Linked DNA regions of Homo sapiens: region 2 is linked to region 1. Evidence: fine-mapped expression QTL. Tissue or cell type: whole blood. Region 1 holds a variant in brackets; the other region holds the start of a gene. All regions are shown on one strand. Distances are between the middles of the regions.

The links. PIP is the estimated chance that this variant, and not a neighbour inherited with it, causes the effect.
Region 2: PIK3R1 starts here. The variant in region 1 is fine-mapped to the expression of PIK3R1 in whole blood (TOPMed, PIP above 0.99).

The regions. Positions count from the first base shown.
Region 1 is chr5:68,276,196-68,284,195 of GRCh38, reverse strand. It overlaps PIK3R1 (phosphoinositide-3-kinase regulatory subunit 1), which reads right to left. Exons shown (of 16, transcript NM_181523.3): 5 at 4,463-4,594; 6 at 3,467-3,668; 7 at 3,190-3,269. Among named protein-coding and RNA genes, the nearest start is that of PIK3R1, 64 kb to the right of the region's middle. The variant A/G (reference allele first, on the strand shown) is at 3,901.
Region 2 is chr5:68,209,875-68,220,246 of GRCh38, reverse strand. PIK3R1 (phosphoinositide-3-kinase regulatory subunit 1) reads right to left here and starts at 4,491. Exons shown (of 16, transcript NM_181523.3): 1 at 4,298-4,491. RefSeq lists silencers at 3,775-4,874, 5,095-5,314.

The DNA of each region.
Region 1 (8,000 bases):
TGATGCGATAGATAGCAGAGAAATTATCAGTTCATTAAATCTCATACCAACCCCAGGAGAGAGGCATTAACCCAATTCCACAGTCTGGAAAACAATTTGGAAAAGCTGAGTTACTCGAGAGAGTTGAGATTCCAATCCAGATCTATTTGAGTCAGAAGCCCACTTTTTTTTCCACTGCACAGCTCATGGAGTGATTTGGAGCCTTATCCTGAAAAGTATAAACATTGCCCTGACTTTGTTTACTATATGTGACCCATGGGGGCTAATTTCACATATTTTTAGTTTATTACATGCTGGAAACTTCAGAGGAGTTTTTGATTGGACACTAAAAGCAGCCTCATTGCTCACGAAGTTTCCAAAAATCCAGGCAGCAGGGCATGGCAGATAGAATGGGCTGGAGTGTAGGAGGCGGCTCCTGGGCAGACCCGGTTTGGGCCCATACTGGCCGGGTAGCACAGAGCGAACCTCTATCTGTGGGCCTCGGTTTCCTCATGTCCAAATTGGTAAAGCTGGACAATGCTTTCAACTCTAAAATGATGTTTTTTGTGATACTATCACTTAAAATATGTACTGCTTTTGTAAAATACCAAGCCATTATTTTGTACTGTGTAATTTATTTTGAATAAGTCTTTAAACTCCATGCATCAAAATGCTATTTCTCCTTTGCCTATTCAAATTGTACCTATTCTTCAAGGCACATTTCAAGCCCTATTTCTTCTATGAGCCTTTTCTGTCTACTCCATTACCCTAGAAAGTCACCAGCTGCATTTCTAAAGTTCTTTTTGTACTTAGAGTATGTGTACTCCCACCTAGCATTTAATTAGATACTATGTGCTAATGGCTCTTATTTGAACTGATACTTTGCCTCAAACATCATAAGCTTTGTCATTTCAAGTTCTATCTGGTAATAATTAGAAATGCTGTCTATCTGCCCTATAACAGAGTCTTGCTTTTGTCTCCCTTAAACATCATTCAGGTACTCATTTGTGTTCACAACAATGTTACTGTAAATGGCCATTCGCTGGAGATGTAAGGTGCTGTGCTTTCAAAGTTCTGTCTGGTACTAGCACATGCTGTGGCAATGCTGAAGGACTCTAAGAAATTATTGCATTTTTTAAACCAGGCCTAAGAATCATTTCTTCAACCCAGGCTGCCATAGCAGTCATTTGCACTGGAGCCATTCCTGAATACGAAGATGTTCTGGATGGGGACGTTTTGTTCCTGGAGTGGGCAGTACAATGTATGCACACATGAGAGACACTAAAACAGCCATTTAATTCCAAAGGTCCTATACAAATCACACAAACTTCCTGGGAAAACGGCTCAAACTAGAGTTTAAAACCGACTTGGATTTAATTTTTTTTAAGAGGCCACATAAATACTGGGATGATCTAGCAAATGTTCAAGGCTTTGTCATCCTTTAGCAGAGCTGATGGAACTAATCCTCCTTTGAAACAGGCGCACCAATTGCTCAGCAGAGAAATGTAGGGTCCTTTGACATATCAAACAGCTTTCCGGGTGGCATTATGAAAATAGTGCAGATACCCGTTTTTACTTTGGTGGAATTAGGATGAAACTAACAAAGGCGTTTAACTAGTTTACACCAGTCAGGCTAATCAAACTCTACCACTGATTCTGCTATACCTTGTGTAGTAGAAATTCTCCAAAATTCCATGTGATAAATTCATTTGTGGGTATCTGTCAAACCCTGTCTGGCTTTGGCTTCCATGTGTCTCCTCTCTCTAGAGGAGTGGCCACTGAAAAGATCAGGACTACCCACTAGCCCTTCACTGAGAGCAGGGTCCAGCTCTACCTAGTCTCTAACATAAACCTCAACTTAAGTGCCATGTGCCACACCCCTACCCCAATTCTTTTCCACTAAGTCCAAAGGCAGCCTCTGAACACCAGCACAGAGCTCCCAAATCCATTCACAGTGACCTGTGTACTCACACGAGATGAAGCCTTTTGGCCAACCCCTGGACTGAAGTCCTAGTCCCTACCTGTTGACAGTCTTCTTTGACGTAGTTTACCTAGAATTCTGGGCACCCCTGTTAAAACATTCTGCTTGCTGTGATTTGGAACATCCCATGCTTGCCTTATCTACTATACCGGATACCTCTCTCTCACCTTTGGTACATTTTGGGCCTGTCCACATAAACCTTTCCCAATACCCGCATCTTCAGTGTTTACCTACCCTATCCTCTATCCTACCTGCTGCAGGTGGGTTTTGAGTCTAGGCCCTGGCCTCTCTTAGGCTGCCCCATCCAGATGCAAGTAACCAAGCCTGGCTGTGCAATACCCAATTAAGAAAAAGCACAACTTAACTCTCCATTGCATGAAGATGAAACTGAGTCCCCATGCCTGCTCATACAGAGATAAATATGGTAATCTGCATATATTACCTATAATAAATATATTCATGGAGTTTCATTTTAAGTTCCAGGCATAAATTAAGACTACAAGCAACACCTTTTACTGGTCCTGAAACTTCACACGTATAGTACCCTAATTACTATTCTAAATGACCAGTGTCGATTAGCTAACTTTTAACTGGTATATAGCAAAATGAGGTTGTTTAGACTTTCCACGGTAGAAGAAAAATACATCAGTTTAAATTAAATGCATTGCTAACATGGTCTACATTTCCTGCTTTGTTAAATGGCTAACTGAACAGCAGCCTGCTTTCAAAGAAGTGTCTGGCTTGCTCGAACTTGCTGCAGGGAACACTGGTTTCATACTGCTTGCATTATTGAAAATGTTTATTTTGACAGGCATTTCTCAGCATACCCACTTCCAAAAAACACATTCTAAAATACTTTAAATTATATAGTAATTATAAATCCCCTACTTTGTAAGTATTAGAAAGAAAAACAAAAATGTCAACAACTAAAATGAACTCCATAAATCTCTTCAACAACCTGAAGCATAAATGTTGAAGGGTACAGGGAACTCTCCAAACTCTCACCTAAAACCAAGATAATTTAAAATCCACAAATGTTGAAACTCGGATAATAATTAACATATACACTACCACTCAGCTATTTTTTCTTTAAATCACAAGGTAACATATTACTACCAACTGTAATTCCATAAGAAGCTGTGTTACTTCAAAGGAGGTTTATAGCCATCATTTTTTAAGGCTCTAAAAAATGAACAATGAGAGAATGTTAAATGCTCAAAAAGCATTACCTGGTGCAGGCTGTCGTTCATTCCATTCAGTTGAGATTAAAATTTCTATAACTTTTATGAGGTTTTCAGTATTATCAGAGCTGTAAGAAAGAGAGTTTATTAGAAACCTTTTCCCTAAAAGCAAACTCATTTTCATTTATATACACTCAAGTGAATGTGTGTGATAGCATCTGCACATGCATCTCTGGAGTAGTATATTCAGAATACATTTTCATGACCAATCCATTTAGGACTACCCTCATCACCCCAAAATACATGTTTGTCTCCTTTCACTTACCTGGCTGCTGAGAATCTGAAAAGCATAGGGCTGAAAATTTCAGAGAGTACTCTTGCATTCAACAGATTTTTGCTGGAGGTTTGAGAGAGCTTGAAGAAATGTTTTAACAAATACTGAAGCGTAAGCCAATACTGATGAGGTATGCTAGGCGACCTAATAAGCTTCTTCAATAGCTGAATATATTCTTCGGAGCTTTGTACTTCTACAAGTTTAAAAAAAAAAAAAAAGAGAAATGAGTAAGCGACTACTTCCAGGTATCAGTGAATAAACACCTAGAAAAGTTCTGCTCTTTCTTCAAGCTATAGGAGTCATTTAAAAAGTTGTTGGGAGAAGCACACAGTACATTTGTCCTTCTCATTAGAAAACGCATTATGAGAAAGTAGAAATCTCAGGTCAAATGGAAATGCAAAAAGCTCAGTGTGTAAAGAAACCAC[A/G]AGCTGTTCAGGGTGTGCTGGCAGCAACTTACCCAGTATTGAGCAGCTTCAAGTGTGATTGGCTAACTCAGAGGAGCATCAGATAAGTATCACAGGTTTTAACTTTGAAGGTTACGAACCAGTTTCCTGTCCCCAAAGCACTTAACTGAACCTTATCTCCTAAAACTGAGAGCCATCTTCCCTCAACACATTCTGTTATGGCCACTCAGGAAAGATGACAAGAACATCCCCCATCACTGGATTCTAGTCCCAGTTCCTTGAATCTGACACTAGTACTTGGAAGACCGTGTCCTTCATTGACGTACAAACTTTGTTAAGACCAATAGGTTAACAATGAGCCATTTCTGATTCTGACATGCAGACGGGCTTCCCAAGCAAATGAGAATCTGGGTCTTCTCTTGGATGCTTGGGTGGAGGAGGAAATTTGAGGTGGTATTGTTGGGGGAGGGACAGGTTATTACTACTATTTTCTAACCACTATTTCTATATATGCAAGACATATACAAGCACCTCTACATCTCCATGTATGTTCAATGAGGTTCCCAGAAGAGAAAAAACAAACCTGGAGCTAAAGAAATCATTTCACTGTAAACGGCTGCTGGAATGACAGGATTTGGTAAGTCCAGGAGATAGCGTTTGAAAGCGTCAGCCAAAACGTGCACATCGATCATTTCCAAGTCCACGGAGGGTGTATCTAGGAAACAATTTAAGAAATATTTCAGACATTTATTTTATAGAATACATCAGTTGGGCTAATTTTCTGAACAATTTGACTCACATGTGACAAAAAAAAAAAAAAATAAGGAAGCAATATGAGGATAAATACAAGACACAAAGTATTCGTTAGCCGTACTTCTTGTAGGGGTTGCTCCGGGCATTTGGGGTAGAACAATTTTTCCTGTGGAGGTCTCTCTGACATATTGCAAGCACTTAGGATGCCTGACCCCCTGCCCATGATGCCAGTAGCAGACCTCCACACTTTGGGGCAACAAAAAATAATGCCTTTGTTATGGGCTGAATTGGGCTGCATCTTCAGTGGTTACCTACCCCATCCTCTGTCCCACCCCTCTAAGCCCAAACTCCTAATGCCTCAGAAAGTGACTGCATGTAAGTTAAAATGAGGCCATTAGAGTGGACTCTAATCCAATGTAACTGATATCCTTCTAGGAGGGGAAATGAGGACACAGAGAGAGACACACTAGGGATGCACAGGCACAGAGGAGAAACGCTGTGAGGATGCAGTGAGCAGGTGACCATCTACAAGCCAAGGACAGAAGCCTCAGGGGAAACCAAACATGCTTTTTTCTCGGACTTCTAGCCTCCAGAACCACGAGAAGTAAGTTTCTGCTTTTTGAGATGGAGTCTCACTCTGTAGCCAAGGCTGGAGTGCATCTCTGGTGTGATCTCGGCTCACTGCAACCTTCACCTCCCGGGTTCAAGCGATTCTCCTGCCTCAGCCTCCTGAGTAGGTGGGATTACAGGTGTGTACCACCACGCCTGGCTAATTTTTGTATTTTTAGTAGAGACAGGGTTTCATCATGTTGGTCAGGCTGGTCTCAAACTCCTGACCTCGTGATCCACCCGCCTCAGCCTCCCAAAGTGCTGGGATTACAGGTGTGAGCCACTGTGCCTGGCCAAGTTTCTGCGTTTTAAGCCACGCAGTCTGTGGTAACTTGTTATAACTGCCTGAGCAAACGAATACAGAACCCAAACATTTCCTAACATCCTCTGAGGGTGGTTCTGCCCTGACTGAAAAGGGTTCTAACTAGGAATGGTTAGTCATATAGTAAATGTTTCCTAAAACCTCAACAGGAAAAATTTAAAAATGCATATTCCCAGATTTCCTAAGACTTGAGTTGATATGTCTCAGAATTCATGTAAATGTCACCAACAGAGTGATGGATTCAACAGTAAGATACTACAGACTTTTAGCAACCAATCTCAAGAATATCCATGAAAATAATTTGAACATTTTTAGAATGTTTCTCCCTAATTCTGTCTGAGTATTACTAATCTAACCTGTGGATATCAGACAATCTCAGAAAATAAGATGAGCATACCTGTCCAGTAAATCCCTCAGCTGGGAAACAGGTCAAGCAATCCAATAATGGGGGTAAAACTAATCAATACCACCCTCCAGGCACTCACTACGCATGGCACTCTAAGTACTTGGGTTGGAAAAAGACACAATGCCCAGCAGAAGAAAGGGATGCTAGAAACAAAGATCTGGGGGCAGGGGTGACCATGGGCCTCTAGAAAAGGAGAGGACTTTGGCTGCTGCTGAAGGATGTACACTAGCAATGCGAAGGATAACTTGAGGAAAGTAATCTGGGGACTTGTGTACTCAGTGGAGCAAAGGTGGGCTGATGGGCAAGATACTACGTTTGTAACAGCTTTACTAATGACAGTGTTAAGAATAAATTGGAAGGGAGTGCTGCTAGAAGTAAAACTACCAGATTTAGTTCTCTGAATCAAGGTGATGGGGGTCTGAATTCTAATGCAGTTAGAAATGTACAAAATATTATCGAGACCTCATATAACTCGGTGATTGACTGCATTGGGCTGTGGCCTAGGAGAGAATGAGGAAGTATGAAAGTTTACTGCAAAGTGTTTGAGTATAAATGAGTGGGAGAAGGTAGTATCCTAGATAACCTTGAATGGAATATGACAGTACAAATCATTCTAGGTTGAGCCTAAGACTACAAAAATTCCTTGGACATATCATCATAAACCAAACTTGCCCCACTAGGTAGGCCGACGTTCCGAAAGTGAGTCACACAACCACACAGCTCTAAGAAAAGTAGGTCTGGAATAGGATATGGATAGGTCAACTTGAGGAAAAGAATTATTAAATTTAAAAGGTGAAGAGGCGAAGTGTTAAATCACTTAAATGTCCTACAAACAACCAACCAGAGACATATCACATGTTTAACAAGTGTGGGAGGGGCAATACCACTGTAGTAGATCCTCTGCATAAAGGATCTACGTTGAAGGTAATGCAATTGTGAGCATAATTAAATACTGTCAAATAAAATTGTGTGTGTGCTGCTATAGGAATTCTCTATGGTCACCACTCTTGGCCGTGCTTCTGGTTTCCCATACACTTTGCCCCGCATGTTTCATCTAATGTCTCTCTGCCCGGAAAATTAATATTACCGAATTTGCTTATCCTAAAATATGTGATAAAACATTTGGTGATGCAGTATAAACGTTAAGATAATAAATATGCACACATCCCTCCCTCAGGCAGGGTTTCCCTCTGTGCTTCTGCAGTGCTAATGAGCCACCCCTCTAACAAGACACTTCCCAAGGAGTATAATCATAGTGTGGGATTATGTGTTTCCCTACTAGACCGAGGTACGTCAAGGGCAGGGACTGTGGCTGTCACCTGCTCTTCTGGCATCCCTCAGTGTCCAGCACATACAACGTGTTAAATGTTTGTGGATTGAACTAGAAGGCTCAATCCACAAGTGAAGTTAATTCATCAAAGCCCTTTTCCAACACATGAGGTATATCAAAAGAACTTTCATAGTATATGAATAAAATTATCCTATGCAGGTCTTTGGGTAACCTTACCTTATGTCAAATTCTACTAGAGCTAGTGACAAAGTCTGTTCTATTTATCTGACTTCTGCTCTCTAAGAATCCTTTTCTGCATTGAAACTGGCCTAACGTGCTCTTCCATTAGCTATTCCTACCTGTCATGCGATGACTTTTGAAGAGCTACATAATCTTTAGGTCTGGGTTGGAGGTGTTTGCATTCTCTCCTACCTCACTTTTCACTGAGTCTACTCATGACAGGTACCCAGTAAACTCTCCAACCCTTCACTCCTCCCTCCCTCCCCCTGGAATGGAGTCTCCTCTTCCTTAGGTCTCTCCCTAGGTTAGTGGTTCCCAGTGGGAGTGGGATCCTGCCCTCTGCCATGAGCCATCTGGCAATGTCTGGAGACATTTCTGATTGTCACAACTGGGGGAGAATGCTGCTGGCACCTCATGGGTAGAGGTTAGGGATGTGGCTAAGCTTCCCACAATGCACGGGACAAGCTCCCACTCTTCCAGCAAAGAATTATCCAGCCTAAAATGTCAATAGTACCAAGGCT
Region 2 (10,372 bases), 65 kb after region 1:
GCTTCAGATTCAGGCAGCTGCCCCAGTCAGATTGTGCCTAAATATGTAACCTCAGGAAAGTTACTTAAACCTCTCTGTGGCACAGTTTTATCATCTGTGAGACAGCTATAAGCAAACCTACAGCCCACAGAGTCATTATGAGGATTAACAAAATGACATACATAAAGCACTTCGCTCCATACTTGATAATAGGAGCTTAGGATAATTAATGCCAACATAGTACTTACTATGTGCCAGGCACATAGTTCTCAGAGTTGTACATATATCAACTCATTTAACCATTACAATCACTCTAAGTACAACAATTATCTCTATTTTACAGATGAGAAAACAAGCAGATAAAAGTTAAATATTTTGCCTAAAGTTACATAGCTAGTAAATTGCAACTATTATATTACTATTATTTCTATTAGTATTGAATGTCACCTACTGCCATTTATACAATTCAGATTTAACAGAGGAACAAACATTTATGAGGGATTTTCTTCTGCATTGCCTCTTAACTCTGCAAACAGTTCTAAGTGAATCCTGAATCTAGCTAAAATAAAACTCCCGCTGTCTTAAACCCCTTTTGGAGTAAATAGATAAAGGCTGAGTGTGGACTTTGCCCATGTAGTTCTCTCCTTACCTGAGGTAGAGGACGGCTCTACAGAGGTCAGGACAAAGGAGGCCTGGGAGAGGCCAAGGGATGTGTACATGTGTGTGTGCATCCCCAGGATTTAGAGATGAGTAGCTGTGTCCTCATGGTACAGCCCTTGATCCTGGGGCAGAACCCCAGGCTGGGACACTGGGACATCCGGGGAGGAAGACAACAGGCAAGGAATGGCTGGTCCAGATGCCTTGGCTTTATTAACTCACTACACTCACTGGTGGAGCCTCCTCACACTGTGGCCAGACTCCTGTGACTTCAATACTCTCTTGGATGATCATTAACCTGACAACTATTTTGACTACAGGTGCCTGTGGATATGTATTTGATTTACTTTAAGGAAAACAATGCTAGCAGAATAAAATCTCCAAAGATGTTTCTACAGTAGACATTTTTTCCAATAACACTATACTACAATCACTCTAGCCTTTCAAATAAATAAACACCTAACACCTAGGGGATAAATAAAGGCCATACAGACAAGTTTATAAGTAACTATATAGTCTATTTTTTCAGCTCATGTGGCTTAATGTACATGAAATGGTCGTTAATTGCCACTCTTTTAAGCAAGTAACTCCATACAAGTATTGGCAGAATCATGGCAAGTAATCACATTAGGGCATTAGGGTGTACGTAAAGGAGGCATGGGAAAATGCAGTAAATGATATGAATACTTTGAAAATTAATTAAAACCTAGGTTTTGATAAAAAGCTGTGATATAATTTATATTCTGCTTTCTAAAGTAAAAACTAACTTGATAATTCCTTCCATTGATAACTAACTTTCTAGTCTTCCAGGGCTTCATTAAAATGCTTCATTCTCTTGCCTTCACTTGCAAACCCTGTGCCCTGCAAGAGGGAGAGCTGGAGGAGCTCATATGAAACATACAATATCTTTTGCATTGTGTATGCCTTGACGTGAGAGAATTCCAAAACCCAACACAAACATTATCTCAACTGGCTATATTCTACTTGAGCATAAAAATCAATTTTTTTTCAGCCTGCTCATTCACCATCTCTTTATTCAATAAAACATGTATTTTGCAAATCACAAAATGCAAACACAATAAAAGCTGAACTAGAATTGTTCCTATTTTAATGATCATGTGAACAATCTTTCAGAGTAGATGCCTTTTTACAATACTCCCCTGAACGACCAATATGTTGATTGAACATATCAATTTAGGTTGATATGTTCAATCAACATATCAACCTAAAAATTATATGACAGTCATGGAAAAATGTAAAGAAATGGCCAAAACTTTTAACAGTACAAAATTTGGGTTAGTTTGAGTAGGTTTGCATTTACAATTCAAAGTCCTTCAAAAATCACGTTAGGTGAAACTGACATTACCAAAAGATAAACGCATACCACCATCATCACTGTCTATAATCAAAATATGTATTCCTATAACTTATTGTTCCACTTCTGTTTCCCAGAACCAACTTTATTCTGTGAGGATTTCCTGCGCTTAGTATATTTAAACTCAAGAAATCGCTAAAGAAAAAACATTCAATAAATGGGAAACAAAATGCTTTTTACACTGACTATACAGCATCATGGATAGGAAGAGACTCACTGATATCATTATTTTTAAAAAGCAGATAAAACATCAAATAGCAGTGTGTACACTGCAGAGTTCTGTTATGCAACTAAGAACAGGTCCCAAGTCAAGATGAAAGTTAAAAGTAAATGCACATTACACTTTGCAAGCCAGTATCAGATACATTAAACTTTCTCCCAATCATAAAAATCTATCCACTTCTCTGGAAAAAGTAATATGATTATCTAGTACCTACCTGCATATAAAAGCTGAAGAGGCAAGCAGTGACAATACCCAGCAGTTCTGCAAGGCAGGGAGCCTCCTCCACTGGCCTTTCCAACTTAAACCTTAACTCTGAACCAACATTTCTTCCCAAACTTTAGCCGCAGGCACGCGCGCGCACACACACACACACACACACACACCCCCACACATTACTCTTATTTTCTTTATACTGGTCAAAAACACTTGCTTCCTAAAGTTTAATCAACTTTTGCACCTAAGAAAACTCTTATCTGCTTTCTTCTAAACGGTTTTTCAAGAACAGTGTAATCTGTCAAAAAGTTGTATAGCTAGTGAGTTGCTTTTTCTTCCTTTTTCAATGTTAAAAGATACTTGTGGCCTTCTGTGCAGAAGTCACCAAATTCCTAGTAATTCAAACTGTGACAATCTAATATTCTAATAACCTGCTTAAGAAATGAACCTGTCTGCCCACTCCAACCCTTCCTAGCTAATATCTAACCATCTTTAAGGTTGCCAAAACGTAACAGAACTAATGAAGCATTAAAATATAACTCCACATCAAGCCTTGACCAATAAGCTCTGTGAATATCCCTCCTGATTACTAAAACTTGAGCCTCATCACACCAAAATGACAATCTTATGTTGCATTCAAAACCCGGAACTGCTTTATCCATTGGTACTTCGCACTGGCTGACAAAGAGGAAAAGAAGAGAAAAAAGAAAAAAAACCTAAAATCATGAAGCCCCCAAATAAAGAGCAGACTCACACTCGGACACCAACAGCGCTGCAGCTCAAGGGATTAACGGTGGAAGTGAGACCTTTCCGATATTAATAGCGCCCCGGGAAACAGAAGAATTCCCCCAAACCCAGTTGACACACATTCTGCATTCAACACGTAACAGCCATTCTGCATATATCCTTGCATTTCAGGCTCCAATTCTGGTTATCAAAGTGTATTTCTGTACAGGAGTGCCTGGCCAGAGGTTTTCTGTTCTCTTTGTCTTGTGATCTGAGGGGCAGTTTCTGAGCTTAGGTTAGAGCTGTGGTTTCCAGAGAATTGCCCACGATATTTTAGCTCCGGGTTGCAGGCTCCCTGGCTCTCCCCAGCCGGCTCCATATTGCTGGGCAGGTCCCTCCCGCCTCGCCCCACGTTCCAAAAGCTGGATTTCCGGGCGGTTCCAAGACCCCACTAAATATGCCTCCAACAACCTGCCCAAGCTTGGCTGGCAATAAACGCTGAGTTAGGGCCCCAGCGACCAACCGCCCCGAGGCGCACTTCCCCCACCCCGGAAGAGGAGGGCGGCAAACTTCGGAAGGCGGGGGTTAGGGGACGAGCTCCGGGGACCACCGCCGCCTCGCCCGCCCCGGGAAGGGCCCGGGCAGCGACCCTGGCTGCAGCTGGAGGGCCACGGGGGAAGGGAGCGCTCCTTCCCGCAACACGAAGGCAGCGGCCAGGGCGCTCTCCTCCGGTGAGGGGCCCCGGAAAACTGCAGCAAGGCGACAGCGGGGACCCTCCGAAGTGTGCGGTGACGGAGGGTGGGAGGAAGCCCGAGCTCGTCGGCAACTCCGGGGGCAAATGCGACCGGCGGCGTGCAGGACCAGCTCGCAGGAGGACGGGGGAAACGGGAGTCAGGATGGCGGGGATCTCACAGGACGCCGGCCGCGCGCGGGGGTAGTGCTGCCCGGCGGCCAGGAGATGCCGGAGGCGGGGAGGGCCGGTGGCCAGCCCGCTTCCCCCCGGCGGGGCTCTGCAGAAGGAGAAGCCGCTGCCAGTGACAGGAAGAGAGTCGCGGCAGCCGTGCACACATGCACCGCCTCCCCCGCCCGAGCACACACACCCGGGGCTGCTGCTGCCTACCTACCCCGCCCGCCGGCTTCCTTCCTCTGCGGGGCCCGCGCTGCAGCGGTGGCCTCCTGCCCGCTCGGTTCCGACCGGCCTCCAGCCCGGCTGCGACCCGCCGGCCGTGCCCGATCCGTGCTTGCCGTCTCCGACAGCTAGCCTGCCGCCCTCGCCGCTGCCGCTGCTTCCTCCAACTCCGCTCCAGCTGCTGGCGACTCCTCTCCGTGCGCCCGCAGCTCCAGCGCCCGGCGCTAGCCCCGCCTCCGGCCCGGCCCCGCGCGCCCCGCCCCCGAGCCCACACCAACCAGAGCCCGCGGCTCCGCCCCTTTCCGTCCGCACGGCTCGGGCCTCCGAGCCGGCGGCTGGCAGTGGGGGAGCGAGCTCAGGCCTGGCGGACCCTTCCTGCCACCGCCCTCGCCTTCCGCCCCCCAGCCGCGGGGATGCCCCGGGCGGCCGTGCCGCGCGCTGCCTCCGCTGCGGAGTGCTCTGGCTCTACACGTCCCGGGCCCGCCCGGCTGCTGGGCGTCTCCCAGCGCAGAGGCGGAGGGGTTCGGGGAGGTCGAAGACAAGTTCAGACCTCCCTGGAGGCTGGCTGCGTCTCTAATCCGAGTGTCTTTCAGCCAACCCCAGGCTTTTTCGAGCCCCTAGCGCCCCAGCAGAGTGGCTGGGGTGGGGAGGACTCGGATTCCAGAGCTCGCCAAAGCGGAGAGGCCCTGCAATTCCTGGTCTCGCCAGCACTGCCTTCCGAGTGGGCGGAAAACCCGCGGCACCCGCCTGGCGCTCCGGGGGTGAAGGAGGGGTGAAAGGGTGAACCGGAGGGACGGGCGCCCGCAGCCTGCCGCTGGCTAACTCCGGCAGCCTGGCACCGCCGCCTCCGGGAGCCAGGCGGACCCGCGAGAAGGGAAGAGAGTTTTCTGAGGGCGTACGCTGGCTGATGGCTTCTAGTCCTGAGATGACAGAGCAAATGGAGGTCACTCAGGCAGACCACGGGCCCCTCGGCGTTCGCGGAGTCGGGGGCGGGGTTGGCGGGGGGTGGGGTTGGCGCGGGCGGGGGGGGCGGGGAAGCGCAGGTGAATTACATTGTCTCTTAAAGGTGTTAGTTTTGAAATGCATATTCTTCAAGTAATAATTACCTAAGTTGCTCCAGAAAAATTTGATGTTGGTTCAAACCTTCCACTGATGGTAAGATGGAATGCCAGCACCACGTGTGCCACTCTTTCATATTAAAACATGTGAGAATCTGCTTCCTAAAAGCTCTTTCCAGATTCTCCTTTCTGCAGCTTAAAGCCCTGCACCCGCCCACCCTGTTTGCCTAAAGCCCTTTTATAGTTCCCTCCCAGTTTCCTTGCAAGAAAACTCTTAAAAACAAACACACAAAACCTAAGCACTTGGCCTCTGTAAAACGTTGAATTTGGTGGTTTATTCTTGTGGACGTTGGAAGTAGAGGGAAGAACGTCCTAAAATTCATCGCTTATCCTTAAAAAATATCATTTTTAAAGGTGACTCACCTAACAGAAAAGTAAGCTCCACTTTAGGCTATTCAGACACTGGTGTTTCTATTATTCCAAGATGTCTCTTGCAGAGGCGACACAAAAACAGGCAGCTACCCACATCATGTTTAAGAATACACTTTATCTGAAAGCAAATAGGAAATTTACCAAGGTACCTTCTTCACACCTACTGTGTGAAATGAAGGACTTCATGCATTCTCTGTCTGTAAATGGAATGATATACCTTGCCTTGCAGTAGAATTACTTTGATCCAATCCAATAAGCTGAGATGAAACTGCTGTGACCTTCCCAGTATTTCCTTTAGGTTCCGCTCTGAACAAACTCTAACAGTGAAAACCTTGCTAGTTATCTCCTTCTTCTGGAGATAGCTGGAAAGAGTCTTATGCACTATTGCAGTGGGATTCTGTTCACCCGCAAACCTAAAAACAATAAAATTCCCAAATGCACCTCCTCATTTAGACACAGTCTTTAGTAATTTATTTCCAGCATACATTGTATTTCCTTTACGTTTTTTCATCATAAAGAGTGTCCCAAGGGAAGAAAATAAGGCTCTCTTTTCATATACTAAATAAATTCAGTATTTCATTTGTTTTAAACTGATGATATCTCCCCATATCACTAGTATTAGCATTTTTATTTATTTTCACCTTCAATTGATTTCTATGAAACAAAAGCAAAGGCAACAAAACAGCAGTATTCAAGCTTTTTTAAAAATAATCTTTTTATTTAATAAAATCTAGTCTAGAATCCCCAAATACAACTATAAGATAAGAAGTCATGTAACAAGACCAAGAGGCCCATTGCACCACCTCCCTTCCTTCTGTCTAGAACCTCTGGATCCTTGGACTAGAAACATCTGGATCTCCTGAGAATTTGTTGGAAATTCAAATTGTCCTCACTGAATCAGGAATGCTGAGGGTGGAGCCTAGCAATCTGTATTTTAATAAGCTCTCCAAGTGATCTGATGCATGCCCTATGGTTTCAGAACTATTACTCTAAGGCTTCTGGAAACACTGATTGAAAACCTCTGCAATAAAATACTCACATTAAGTACCCAAACACCATGGTTCAATCAGTAATGGCCAAACTGTTGGCCAGCAGGTAGTGACACCAGCAAGGAGCTCGAAATAGCAGAAGATGTACAATTTGCAACGAAAGGGGTGATACAGGGGTGTCACATACAAGGCATAAGAAGTCAAGGACCCCCCAATGTCAAGAAAGGCTGAGTAGCTATAGGCTGAGAAAGAATTCTCCCCAAAGTATGGTAGGATACTCTCATTTGGCATCATCATTCCAGCTACATCAATATTGTGAGTGCTAGAATTAGCTTTCATTAGACTTGAAACCTAAGAATGTATCTTAGGGTTCAAAGCCAATGTGAAATACAAATGGCTTAGACCTTTACTTCTCAAGTGAGGCCCATAGACCAGCAGCTTTGGCACTATGTAAGAGCTTGTTAGAAAGGCAGAATCCCAGGCCCTATCCCAGGCATACTTAATCAAAATCTGCATTTTAACAAGATTATCAGGTGATTCCTATGCAAGTTAAACTTTGAGAAGCCCTATCTTAGACAGGGGTTCTCAGTTTTCTCTACACATTGCAAATACCTGAGGAGCTTATAAAAATCTCAATACCTGGTCTGCACCCCAGATGGATTACATCAAAATCTCTGGGGTGAAATGCAGGCATTAGTAACTTTTCAAGCTCCTCACATTATTCCAGTGGGAAGCCAGATTTTAGGAACCACTGCTTTGGAGGAGCCACTTAAGAAAGGCGCTATTAGGAAAGCCCTCTGGGTACAGTAGAGTACAAATGGCTGGTCTTAAAGCGGGCAGCTGAACTAGAGTTTAGCTAATTGTTGCCGCACAGGAATGTGAGCCCAAATTTTCCAATTTTCCTAGAGAAGCTGAAAATACAGATTTTTATGGACTATTTTCCAATTATTGAATGCTGGCAATGAATTCAACCTTTTTTAGAAATATAGGTTAGGCCACATTCGTGTGATTTTTTTGAAATGTGGGTTAGGTTAGTGTGATGTTATGATGCTGCACATCATAAAATAAAGTGGGAAAAAAAAATCACCCAAGAAGAGTACTGGCTTCTTGGAATGTAAGCCTCATGATCTAAAGAGTCAAGTGTTTTAAATGTTCTGTTCTCTAACAGAACCAAACACTGTAGGCATTCAATGACTGGGAATTGGTAATGGGTGAGATATCAATGCTTGCAACCCTGGGGCAAAACACTATGGTCTTCTATGCAATATTTTTATTTTCTCTTTCTCCTGCCTGCTAACTGATGTGTTGGGGGTGGGAAAGTAGAATGAATCTTTGCATTACTTAGATTAAAATCTGCACCTATTGTGAGTTATGCAGGTTAATTACATATTAAGAGAAACATGAAAAAATTATTGACTGGAATACTTACTACCTGATATGGTTTGGCTGTGTCCCCACCCAAATCTCATCTTGAGTTGTAGCTCCTATAATGCCTTCATGTTGTGAGAGAAGCCTGGTGGGAGATCAGTGAATCATGAGGGCAGTTTCCCCCATACTGTTCTCATGGTAGTGAGTAAGTGTCACAAGATCTGATGGTTTTATAAAGGGTTTCCCCTTTCACTTGGCGCTCATTCTCTCTTTGCCTGCCACCGTGTAAGACGTGCCTTTCTCCTTCTGCCATGATTGTGAGGCCTCCCCAGCCACATGGAACTCTAAGTCCATTACACATCTTTTCCTTTATAAATTACCCAGTCTCAGGTATGTCTTTATCAGCAGCATGAAAACAGACTCATACAGTAAATTATTACAGCAGCAGTGGGGTGCTGCTGTAAAGATACCTGAAAATGTGGAAGTGACTTTGAAACTGGGTAACAGGCAGAGGTTGGAACAGCTTGGAGGGCTCAGAGGAAAACAGGAAAATGTGGGAAAGTTTGGAACTTTCTAGAGACTTGTTGAATGGCTTTGACAAAAATACTGATAGTGATATTAACAATGAGGTCCAGGTTGAGGTGGTCTCAGATATAGATAAGGAACTTGAGAACTAGAGTAAAGATGACTCTTGCTATGTTTTAGCAAAGAGATTGGTGGCATTTTGGCCCACCCTAGAGATTTGTGGAACTTCAAATTTGAGGGGGAAGATTTAGGGTACCTGGCAGAAGAAATGTTTAAGCAGCAAACCATTCAAGAGGTGACTTGGGTGCTGTTAAAAGCATTCAGTTTTAAAAGGGAAACACATCATAAAAGTTCAGAAATTTTGCAACCTGATGTGATAGAAAGGAAAAACCCATTTTCAGAGGAGACATTCAAGCTGGCTGCAGAAATTTGCATAAGTAACAAGGCACTAAATGTTAATCACCAAGATAATGGGGAAAATGTCTCTAGGGCTTGCCAGAGACCTTTTCCACAGCTGCTCCAACCGTGGCTAAATGGGGCCAAGGTACAGCTTGGGCTGTGGCTTCAGAGGGTGCAAGCCCTAAGCCATGGCAACTTCCACATGGTTGGGCCTGTGGGTGCAGAGAAGTCAAGAATTGAGGTTTGGAAACCTCTGCCCGGATTTCAGAGGATGTATGGAAAGGCCTGGATGTCAAGGCAGAAGTTTGCTGCAGGGGTGGGGCCCTCATGAAGGACCTCTGCTAAGGCAGTACAGAAGGGAAATGTGGGGTTGGAGTCCTCACACAGAGTTCCTACTGGGGCACCACCTAGTGGAGCTGTGAGAAGAGGGCCACTGTCCTCCAGACCCCAGAATGGTAGATCCACCGACAGCTTGCACCGTGCACCTGGAAAAGCCACAGACACTGAATGCCAGCCCATGAAATCAGCCGAGAGTGAGACTGTACCCTGCAAAGCCACAAGGGTGGAGCTACCCAAGACCATGGGAGCCCACCTCTTATATCGGCATGACCTGTATGTGAGACACGGAGTCAAAGGAGATCATTTTGGAGCTTTAAGATTTGACTGCCCTGGTGGATTTCAGACTTGCGTGGGGCCTTTAGCTCCTTTGCTTTGACCAATTTCTCCCATTTGGTATGGGTGTATTTATCCAATGCCTGTACTTCCATTGTAATCTAGGAAGTAACTAACTTACTTTTGATTTTACAGGCTTATAGGCAGAAGGGACTGGCCTTCTTTCAGGTGAGTCTTTGGACTGTGGACTTTTGAGTTAATACTGAAATGAATTGAGACTTTGGGGGACTGTTGGGAAGGCACTGTTGGTTTTGAAATGTGAGGACATAAGATTTGGGAAGGGCCAGGGGTTGAATGATATGGTTTGGCTGTGTCCCCACCCAAATCTCATTTTGAATTATAGCTCCCATAATTCCCACATGTTGTGGGAGGGACGCAGTGGGAGATAATTACATCACGGGGGTGGTTTCCCCCATACTGTTCTCGTGGTAGTGAATAAGTCTCACAAGATTTGATGGTTTTATAAGGGGTTTCCCCTTTCGCTTGGCTCTCATTCTACCTTTACCTGCCACCATGTAAGATGTGCCTTTCACCTTCTGCCATGATTGCGAGACCTCCCCAACCATGTGGAACTCTGAGACCATTAAGCCTCTTTTCCTTTATAAATTATCCAGTCTTGGGTACATC